Regions from separate parts of the Homo sapiens genome. Here regions 2, 3 and 4 are each linked to region 1. Evidence: fine-mapped expression QTL. A gene starts in region 1. Each other region holds a variant in brackets. All regions are shown on one strand. Distances are from middle to middle.

What was found. PIP is the estimated chance that this variant, and not a neighbour inherited with it, causes the effect.
Region 2: its variant is fine-mapped to the expression of NEK4 in lymphoblastoid cells (CAP, PIP 0.95). The same link has a PIP of 0.9 or more in lymphoblastoid cells after a statin.
Region 3: its variant is fine-mapped to the expression of NEK4 in whole blood (TOPMed, PIP above 0.99).
Region 4: its variant is fine-mapped to the expression of NEK4 in lymphoblastoid cells (GTEx, PIP 0.99).

The regions. Positions count from the first base shown.
Region 1 is chr3:52,769,844-52,772,531 of GRCh38, forward strand. NEK4 (NIMA related kinase 4) reads right to left here and starts at 1,097. Exons shown (of 16, transcript NM_003157.6): 1 at 811-1,097. The coding sequence starts at 903. RefSeq lists enhancers at 874-1,391, 1,179-1,228 and a silencer at 909-1,018.
Region 2 is chr3:52,581,918-52,584,605 of GRCh38, forward strand. The region is part of intron 22 of PBRM1 (polybromo 1); the gene reads right to left. Among named protein-coding and RNA genes, the nearest start is that of UQCC5, 47 kb to the left of the region's middle. The variant C/CA (reference allele first, on the strand shown) is at 1,179.
Region 3 is chr3:52,608,875-52,611,562 of GRCh38, forward strand. It overlaps PBRM1 (polybromo 1), which reads right to left. Exons shown (of 32, transcript NM_001405607.1): 18 at 439-1,081. Among named protein-coding and RNA genes, the nearest start is that of UQCC5, 74 kb to the left of the region's middle. The variant A/G (reference allele first, on the strand shown) is at 1,086.
Region 4 is chr3:52,475,545-52,478,232 of GRCh38, forward strand. NISCH (nischarin) reads left to right here. Exons shown (of 21, transcript NM_007184.4): 8 at 903-1,055; 9 at 2,030-2,098; 10 at 2,553-2,688. Among named protein-coding and RNA genes, the nearest start is that of STAB1, 18 kb to the right of the region's middle. The variant C/T (reference allele first, on the strand shown) is at 980.

The DNA of each region.
Region 1 (2,688 bases):
GATAAAGTGTTTTAAACAGAGGAGTGACAACATCAGATTTAAATTTGAGAAAGATCACTGAGGCTGCAGTGAAAGTGATGGATTGGAGAAAAGCAAGTCAAGTGGCGGCGACCAGTTGGGAAACCGTGGCCATAGCTTTGCTAGAGACAACAGGGTGTCCTGGATTGGGGTGGTAGCAGTAGAGATGAGAGGAGGCCTATTGTCTTAGTGATAGATGAATATAATCAGTGTTGGGGTGCGTGGGGAGGCTTAAAAATGACTCCAGGTGTCCGGCTTGGGCAACTGGTGGGTTGGTGTCACTATTCACTGAAACGGAAGACATGAGAGAAGGTTTGGCGGGAAGAAAATGAGTCGAGTTTTAAGTGAATCCAGCAGTCTACAGTAGAGACGTTTGGGGCCCTTCATTCAAGGAATAATGCTTGCTAGGCGCTGTATTAAGTCCTGGGAATGCATGATACCGGCTCTCATGAGAGTATCGGGGTTGGGAGAAAGGTGTGTAGATCACGCATGCCAATTAGTACAACAAAGAAGTAGATAGGCAGAGACTGAAAATTTTTACATAAAACTTAGAATTGTAATTAAAGAAAATGAAAATTAAAAGGAAAAAAATTTAACACAACAAAGAAGTAGAAGTAGTTCTGGGCGCATATTACAGGGAGGCCAGGCCTCGTCTTGGTCTGGGACCATTTCCCTGAGGAAACGCCATCCGAGATGAGCCTCTTGCGACCACCCCCGACCTAATCTACCGGTCGGCGCCCTCGGCGCACTTCTGCCCGCCCCCGCCCCTTGCCGGGCCCCACCCCTGCAGACCTGCTTGCCGTCCCGCCGGTGCTTCACAAGCGTCACCTCTCCATAGCTCCCCTTGCCCACGACCCGCAGGTAGCAGTAGGCGGCCAGGGGCATGTTCCCAGCGCTGGCCCAGAGTCGGGATGCGGCGGCAGCGGCGGGTAGGGCAGCGGGCGGCAACAAGAAGCTCGGTTCATGCCCGAGAGGGGGCAGTGGGGGCGGCTGTTGAGGCAGCCGGGCCCGGGCGGGATTGCTGGGGCCCGGCCCGCGACGACGCCGCTGCCATAGCGATCCGGGCCGGGAGCAGTTCTGCGCATGCTCCTGCGTCCCCAAAGGACGGCCATAGAGCGGACGCCACGAGCGGCCAGAGAGGTTCCGCAGCCCCGGGAGGACCCGCCATAGAGCAGAGGCTCCAGGAGGCCAGAGCGACTCCGCCAGGCTCCGCGCACTTTCTGTGCGTCCGTTCCACCGTCCGGATCCCCGCCACAACAGAGTCAGGGAAAGCTTCCTCTTTTTGTGCACTTGTTTGTCCTAAGGCCGTTACAAGTATTGTTCGTTCATTCTGCAAATATTTGTTGACCGCCTATGTGCCAGGCCAACAAAGTCCCTGCCCTCCTGGAGCTCATGTTCTAATGACTGGGTGACAGACTCTCTACCAGTAACATTTGCTGTATCCGCTTTATCACATGCCGTCTCTGCATCCAGCAATCCATCCTATTTTTTGATACATTCAAAGTAAATTATCAGTACCTTTCATCCCTAAAAACTCGCCTGCTAATTGAGAACTACAAAGACTCCTCAGCATTTAACGACTACCCTAACCACTGCACTAAGAGACTTGACTAAACTCTAACATGGCATCATGCTAAGTTAACAGCCTAAGGGCGGATCTCTAGGTGGGCCTAGGCCCCTTTAAAATGCCTGCCCAAGAAAGCTCAGGGGTGCCAAAAGAATTCACCATTTGTTCCAGCCAAAGCCTCCCTTTCCCAGAGCGCTTCCTTTTTTTCCTTTTTTTTTTTTTTTTTTTTTTTTGAGACAGGGTCTCGCCCTGCCACCCAGCTTGGAGTGCAGTGGTGCAATGGTGCTCACTGCTGCCTAGACTTCCTGGGCTCAAGCCATCCTCCCAACTACAGGCACACACGTCCATGCCTGGCTAATCCTATTTTATTTTTTTTCAGAGACAGGGTGTCACTATGTTCCCCAGACCGGTCTTGAACTCCTCGGCTCAAGCAATTCACCCACGTTGGCCTCCCAAAATGCCGTTATTACAGGTGTGCGCCATCGTGCCTGGCCTCTTTCCTTTTTATGGCCAAATAATATTCCATTATATGTATACACCACAATTTGTTTATCCATTCATGCAGTCATGGACACGGATAGCTTCCATCTTTTGGCTATTGTGAATAATTCGGCTATGAACATGGGTGTACGAATATCTGTTTGAGTCCCTGCTTTCTTTTTAATTCATTTGGGTATACACTCAGAAGTGAAATTGCTGGATCATATGCTAATTCTAGTTTAATGTATTGAGAAACCACCACACCATTTTTTACAGCAAGCTGAACCATTTTACATTCCCATTAGCAATCCACAGGGGTTCAAATTTCTCCTCATCCTTGATATATATCTTGATAGGAGATTTGGGTGTATGAATTTGTCAAAATTATCTAATGGTACATTTAGTATTTGCACATTTTACTCAAAGCAATTTCATCTTCACTAGAAAACCAAACAAAAAGAACCATAAATAAAGATTGAACTCTAGTTAATGATATTATTAAAGATAAACAAAGCCAGGCATTAAAATGATGAAAATAGATTTTATTCAGTAACTACTGACAGTAGGGGAAGCAGCTGAACTCCATTCCATTTGCGCAGGGGTGATTGGGCATTCCAAAGGAA
Region 2 (2,688 bases), 190 kb before region 1:
GAGCCACCGAGCACGGCCTAAAGTTATTCTTTAAAAAAGTTCCGGTCGGGAGTAGTGGCTCTCACCTGTAATCCCAGCACTTTGGGAAGGTGAGGTGGGTGGGTCACCTGAGGTCAGGAGTTCAAGACCAGCTTGACCAATATGGTAGAAATCCGTCTCTACTAAAAATACAAAAATAGCCGGGCATGGTGGCACACGCCTGTAGTCCCAGCTACTCAGGAGGCTAAGACAGGAGAATCACTTGAACCTGGGAAGTGGAGGCTGCAGTGAGCTGAGATTGCGCCACTGCACTCCAGCCTGGGCGACAGAGCGAGACTCCGTTTCAAAAAAAAAAAAAAAAGCTCCTGAATGACCTGTCTTGGTCATATAATATTGAAATAAAGATATGAGACCAAAAAAGACCAAGTAACTCATATACAGAGAGTTCCTAGAGACTTCTAAATACCAGGTAAGAAATCTAAGTTAATTATCATGCTGACTTCCATTGATAATTCTTTTTTTTTTTTTTTTCAGACGGAGTCTCGCTCTGTTGCCTAGGCTGGAATGCAGTGGCGTGATCTCAGCTCACTGCAGCCTCCACCTACTGGGTTCAAGTGATTCTCCTGCCTCAGCCTCCCAAGTAACTGGGATTATAGGCACCTGCCACCACGCCAACCTCCTCAGCCTCCCAAAGTGCTGGGATTACAGGTGTGAGCCACTGCACCCGACCGGATAATTCTGCTTTTAAAAGAAATTATTTTATGATTCCAACACATTCCCATACTGATAAAATATAAAAAATCACATTCTTTCCCAGCCCCATGATGTCGCCTCTTACGTAGAATCTTTCGGAGCACCTGTTTGAGTACTACCATTGGAGCATATTCTTTGCCATCAAACTGCTGGGTCAAAGACACCGGGCCGGGCACGGTGGCTCACGCCTGTAATCCCAGTACTTTGGGAGGCCGAGGCGGGCGGATCATGAGGTCAGGAGATCGAGACCATCCTGGCTAACACGATGAAACCCCGTCTCTACTAAAAATACAAAAAATTAGACGGGCGTGGTGGTGAGCGCCTGTAGTCCCAGCTACTCAGGAGGCTGAGGCAGGAGAATGGTGTGAACCCCGAAGATGGAGCTTGCAGTGAGCTGAGATCACGCCAATGCACTCCAGCCTTGGGGACAGAGTGAGACTCCATCT[C/CA]AAAAAAAAAAAAAAAAAAAAAAAACTAATAGGGGCGGGGGCGGTGGCTCACACCTGTAATACTAGCACTTTGGGAGGCCGAGGCAGGCGGATCATCAGAGGTCAGGAGTTTGTGACCAGCCTGGCCAACATGGTGAAACCCTGTCTCTACTAAAAATACAAAAATTAGCTAGGTGCGGTGGTGCACACCTGCAATCCCAGCCACTCAGGAGGGTGAGGCAGCAGAATCACTTGAACCCAGGAAGGCGGACGTTACAGTGAGCTGAGATCACGCTACCGCACTTCAGCCTGGGCAACAGTGAGACTCCATCTAAAAAAAAACAAAAAAAAAAACACCAATAGGAGAAAAGTGTGTGTGGTCTCATCCTATACCAGGCTACACATATTATCAGTCTTTTCAACTCTTGCCATCCTGTTAGGTATTATACAAACTATTAGGTTAACTAATACATGTTTTTTGCTGCCTTCTTTCCGTAAATTATCTATTTGGGCCTCTGCTCATTTTTGTAGTCCTACTTTCCCCCCTAGACCCTAAAGAGCTCTTTGTATATTAGAAACAGTAACCCTAGACTGTTTTATTAACCTTGTATTTTCAATCATAAATCAATAAAATGATCAATGGTTTTATATAATGAACAGAAAATCCTCGTCTATTCCAAGTTTATTATTGAAAAAAAATTATAGGTAAATTACTGTTTTTCTAAATTAAATAAAATTCTAAAAATCTTCTGTAGAGACAAGGTCTTGCTATGTTGCCCAGGGTGGTCTGGAACTCCTGGCTTCAACTGATCCACTTGTCTTGGCATCCCAAAATGCTGGGATTACAGGCGTGTGACACTGTACTGGGTTTTAATTTTGTTTTTTAACTGTAGTTTTATAAAATGTAATACATCTGGCAGGGCAAAGTTCTAATTTTTAAATTTAAAAAAATCCCTCAGTTCACTATCAAAGGGCAAAGCTCTCTTTCATACCCCTTTTTCCCCCTTGTTTTCTGGTGACTGTCACATATTTATTCTTAATAAGAATGCTAGAATAATTTTGTCAAGTTTCAAAAACAATCTATGCAAGTCTTTTATGTCCTTCAGTAAATTTTTTTCCTAGAGGTTCTATATATTCCTTGTTAAGGTTATTTCTTAATTTGTTGTTAGTGTGAAATGGATATTTTCTCCCATAAGATTTTTCTAACAGTTGCTAAAGTGTATTCAACACTTTCACTTTACTTTCAAAAGTCTTACTAGTTTATATATGAAGACTATTCATTTACATATGGATTTTGAAATTTCTATTTGCTAAATTTTCTGTTTCCAACCTTTTCAGTTAATTTCCCCCAATTATCTGCAGAAAAGTATTCTTGCTTTTTTTTTTTTTTTTTTTTTTTTTGAGACGGTCTTGCTCTGTTGACCAGGCTAGAGTGCAGTGGTGCAATCACAATTTACTGCAGCCTCTACCTCCTGGGCTCATGGGATACCCCCATCTCAGCCATCCAAGTGGTTGGGTCTACAGGCATGTG
Region 3 (2,688 bases), 160 kb before region 1:
AGGTACTTAAAATGGTGATCAAATTTCTATCAGTCTAACCTCAGGACAACACCTTAGAGCTATTTTATTTAAAGCATTCGTGCACTGAAGCCAAACCTTAAAAGAAAAACGCTGTTACTATTTCCAATTAGAAACATTTATCTTTTTAAAAAACACATTCTATGAAAGGCTGTATTTTAAGTTTATGCTTTTCAAGAGATTTTCAATTTTGTCTTCCTCCTCACTGGCCTTAAACTAGATGACTTAGTGGTGTGCCTTCTCTCCCCCACAGAATATACTCACTCTTAAGAAGTTCTGGCTGATTAGAATTCAGAATAGCATGCTACCAACTACAAATCATGTATGTAAGTGGAAATAGTACATCAAAGCAATATTCTTTCATCTGTTTTGTATTAAATAGCACATATCCTCAAAATAAAAATGGCTTTGAAAACATACCGATTCATCCTTCTTGCTCGTTCCAATACTTCAAACATATGCTCTTGAAATAAATCAAGCCGACGGTAGCGATTATTTTCAACATTCTTCCTAATTATGTCAAATGTAAGGGGTGGTTTGTTAGGAAAGTTGGGATCCACAGCAGGAATTTCTGCTAAAGAATCGCTGTAGCATCTTCCCTCATCATCCTGATGACTCATGACTGACACAAAAAGATTGTGGATAAGCTCTTGAATCAGCAAAGTCACATTTGGGACATGAGAGTCCTCATCTCCCTCCAGGTCTCTGCGTGTTTCAAGCAGGACTTTGTGTAGAACAAGAGCATCTTTGTAGATCAAAGACTCCGGCTCATTGTATGTACAGGCATTATTAAACATCATGACAAAGTCCTCAACCATAGAGTCAATATCTTGGTACTTGTTGGCCATCATGTGACTTCGAATTTTTTCCATGTCCATGGGCTTTTTAATAGTCAGATAGTAGTCAGGCAACTCAGATCTAGAGGGAAGCCTCAGAAATATGGCACTGAGGCGGCGACCCCTCTTATCAGTATAGTTCTTTACAGCTTCATAGACCTCATTTAGTTTCTGCTGCATTGGAGTCATGTATTTTGATTTTTTAGGAGAAATGCCACTCTTCCTACCTAA[A/G]GAGAGATATTTAATGTTAAATGAATAAAATAAATGAACCTAAATTTGTATACAGATGGTAGCATAACCACAAGGGACGATTCCAAGTAATTTGTAAAATCTAGCAATTAGCATGTCTATAGTGAAATATAACCTGCAGACAAAAAAGTACTAAAAATTTTTTTTAACTGTTTTCAGTAATTATATTTTTGATGGGAGACTACTGTAAGGTTGAGAAAGCTGTGAATAAGAAGGAATAAAGCAAATGAGTAGCTATGTGACATTCTATCACCTCTGGTATCCTGGAGAACTGAGATTTTCATCATGGGATAAAAAGAGATAACGGATGTTAAAACGTAGGACATTAATAATTACCTTGAGGCCTTTAATCTCAATTGAAAGTATCACTATGAACTTATGATGTAATTTATCTTTAAATATAAACATACAAACAAACACACAAATTTCCTAGCTCTGTCCACTGAAAATCGTACAAACAATGACTACCTCAGTAGCAGTATAGCCCACATTAGAGTTTTAAAATACTAATTCCAAATAGTAATGTTGAGGAGCCCTCACCTTTCAGCAGAAACATGAAAAAGGTAGGGCTCCTTGGTAAATGGCTGATTCCCAGTCTGGTATATCTTCAAACACTAGACAGTAAAGAATCTATCAATGACTTCTTACCATGACTTCATGTCAATAGAATATAGGAACCGGCTGGGCGTGGTGGCTCATGCCTGTAATCCCAACACTTTGGGAGGCCAAGGTGGGTGGATCACCTGAGGTCAGGAGTTCAAGATCAACCTGGCCAACATGGCGAAACCCTGTGTCCATTAAAAATACAAAAAATTAGCCGAGTGTGGTGGTGGCGCCTGTAATCCCAGTTACTCGGGAGGCTGAGGCAGGATAATTGCTTGAACCCAGGAGGTAGAGGTTGCAGTGAGCTGAGATCAAGCCATTACACTCTAGCCTGGGCGACAGAGCGAGACTCTGTCTCAAAAAAACAAAACAAAAAGAATACAGGAACGAGCCTGAACCAGCCTGAGTATCAATAAGGACAATAACTTCAATTACAACTCAGCCATATGTTTAAGTCTGGTAGTTCTTAATAATACGTACAAACAAACAACAAAATGGGTAAATATTGAAGGATGTTAGTAAACCAATACATATTTTGAAAACTGGTAAAGGTGAAAACAAAATAAAACAAAAATCAAGCCTTTATCCTTTCAAAAAGCAAGACACACACAAAAAAAACACTGTACCACTGGCTAATCAAATATTAGATAAGGCAAAGTTTCTCTATAGCTAATAAGGAATAAAATTAAAAACTATCACAATTTTACATCCCTTTCATGAATTAATAATTAATGAAGTATGCAACAACACCTGTTAACAGAAAGCCATAAATAGATTTCACATGTACCTGATGGAAGACCATATATTACCTATGAAGTCGGTTTTTCTGCCTAAGGGAGAGAACAGGGGATCAGACCTCAATCTGATCAAGCCTCTGGCTCCAACTACCAATTTATAGGAAATACAAAGGACAGAGGAACACATGAAAGTACAACATAGTGGGCCAGGAGCTGTGGCTCATGCCTGCAATACTAGTACTATG
Region 4 (2,688 bases), 290 kb before region 1:
AAGACGGTTGGCTGGCCAGTAGCAGTGGCTTGCACCTATAATCCCAGCACTTTGGGAGGCCAAGGCAGGAGGATCACTTGAGCCCAGGAGTTTGAGACCAGTCTGGGCTATGTAGGGAGACCTCGTTTCTACAGAAAAAAATTTTTTAATTAGCTGGGCAAGGTGGTGTACGCCTGTAGTCCCAGCTACTCAAGAGGCTGAGATGGGAGGATTTGCTTGTGCCTGCGAGTTTGAGGCTGCAGTGAGCCATGATGGCGCCACTGTACTCCAGCCTGGGTGACAGAGTGAGACTGTGTCTCAAAGAAAAAACGGCTAGGCGCTGTGGCTCACGTCTGTAATCCCAGCACTTTGGGAGGCTGAGGTGGGTGGATCACCTGAAGTCAGGAGTTTGAGACCAGCCTTGCCAACATGGTGAAGCCCCCATCTCTATTAAAAATGCAAAAATTAGCCAGGCATGGTGGTACACACCTCTAGTCCCAGCTACTGGGGAGGCTAAGACAGAAGGATGGCTTGAGCCTGCGAGGCAGAGGTGGCAGTGAACTGAGATTGCGCCACTGCACTCCAGCCTGGGTGACAGAGCGAGACTCCATCTCAAAAAAGAGAAAAGGCTAGAAAAGGCATCACCAGGTCACCAGGGCAAAGGCCCTTTGGGCTTGAAAAGCATTGCTCCTAAAGCAGGGCCAGGACTTAATTCTAAGTGGCTGTTATGTGGTAAATTGTTCAGCTTTGAACGATTTCACAATCGTTTAAAGACATAGGAACCAAAGGCATGCTTTAATGCAAGTTTACTTCCACATGCTAAATATGCTCCAGCCCTTCCTTAAATTCTGCAACGACTGTGTTCCCAGTGAGTGTTGCGTGAGGGCCCGAGTGTGGTGCTCCACACAGATGTTTTTATGCAGGAAGTCCTTGTTCCTGAAGCCTCAGAATTTGATGAGTGGGAGCCTGAAGGCACAACCCTAGAAGGCCCTGTGACTGC[C/T]GTCATCCCCACTTGGCAGGCATTGACCACGCTTGACCTGAGCCACAACAGCGTCTCCGAGATCGACGAGTCTGTGGTATGCTCTCAGCAGCAGGTGCCAGGGGTTTCTCTGGCCCCACCAAACCCTGAGTTTGAGTATTTAACTCAGCTTTTTTAGGAAGGACCACGGAAAACCTATATCTAGTGCTCTGTGCATTGCCTGCCATTTTAAGTTAATTACAAAATGGGGGCTGGGCGTGGTGGGTCACACCTGTAATCCCAGCACTTTGGGAGGCCGAGGCGGGAGGATCACTTGAGGTCAGGAGTTCGAGACCAGCCTGACCAATGTGGTGAAACCCCATCTCTACTAAAAATACAAAAATTAGCTGGGTGTGGTGGTGCACACCTGTAATCCCAGCTACTTTGGGAGGCTTAGGCAGGAGAATCGCTTGAACCCGGGAGGCGGATGTTGCAGTGAGCTGAGATAGGGCCACTGCATTCCAGCCTGGGCGACAGAGTGAGACTCCGTCTCAAAAGAAGAAAAAAAAATGGGATCATTTAAAATTGGTGAGGTAGTACTTAGAACCAAATAAAACATAATAATTTCATGTAAATTTGGTAAACTATAACACACTAAATGATGACATTTGCTCCAAAGAGTGGAGCAGAAAAATCACTCCTTAGATGACAGATGTGCCCATGAAAGAATGACACCCAGAGGGCATTTGGGCAGTAAGAGTGTCGTTCCCGTGTTTGCGCTGCTCAGGGAGTGTGGGCAGGGTTGAAGAAGAACAGACTCTCTTCTCTGTCTGGGACCTTGCTGTGTGTCATTTTCACAAGCCAAGTGTTCCATGAAAACTGAGTAGTGCCCAGCACTGGGGGCCCTGTGTGTGCCTTTGGATGTGCTACTGGCTGGGCAGCGGGAGATGTCCCACCAGTGGTCCTGCAGGGACGGCCCGTGGGAGTCCATGGTCGGGAGGAAGCGTCCTGGGGTGCCCGTCCACTGTGTCGGGGACCGTGTTTGGGGTCCAGCCCCCTACAGTAACATCGGGTGTTCTTTTCTTTCACAAGAAACTGATCCCAAAGATTGAGTTCCTGGACCTGAGTCACAATGGATTGCTGGTTGTGGACAATCTGCAGGTAGTGCCTTTGGAGACCAGTGCTGCCCGCACACACTCCCAAGGCCCCGCCCTGAGATTTCAGGAGACTGACGCAGCCTTGGGAATTGGCCAGGGGTTGTAAGGGCAGGGGTTGCTGTCTTCGCTTTAGGATCCCAGCAATGCACTGAGTGATTGTTGCTCTAGTTCCAAAGAATTAGGAAGCATGAGTAAATACAAACCAGGCATGATGATGCACCTCCGTCCTGAAGGTGGACAGCCATGTTTTCAACGCCCACCCCAACTGTCTGCAGGGGTGCCACTGTGCTGTGGCATGTGCGGCAGAGAAGAGGGACTTCCCTTCCTAAAATAACTGTCAGAGTGACTTGCAGAACTGGGTAGTTTGGGTTGGAAGGCCCATCCTGCCATTAGTGTCAGGCCCCTATCTTTGGAGACTTGACCTGAGCCACTTTACGCTGTTCTCCACGCCGCTGCAGCACCTGTATAACCTTGTGCATCTGGACCTGTCCTACAACAAGCTCTCCTCCTTGGAAGGGCTTCACACCAAGCTGGGGAACATCAAGACCTTAAACCTGGCAGGCAACCTCCTAGAGAGTCTGAGTGGCCTGCACA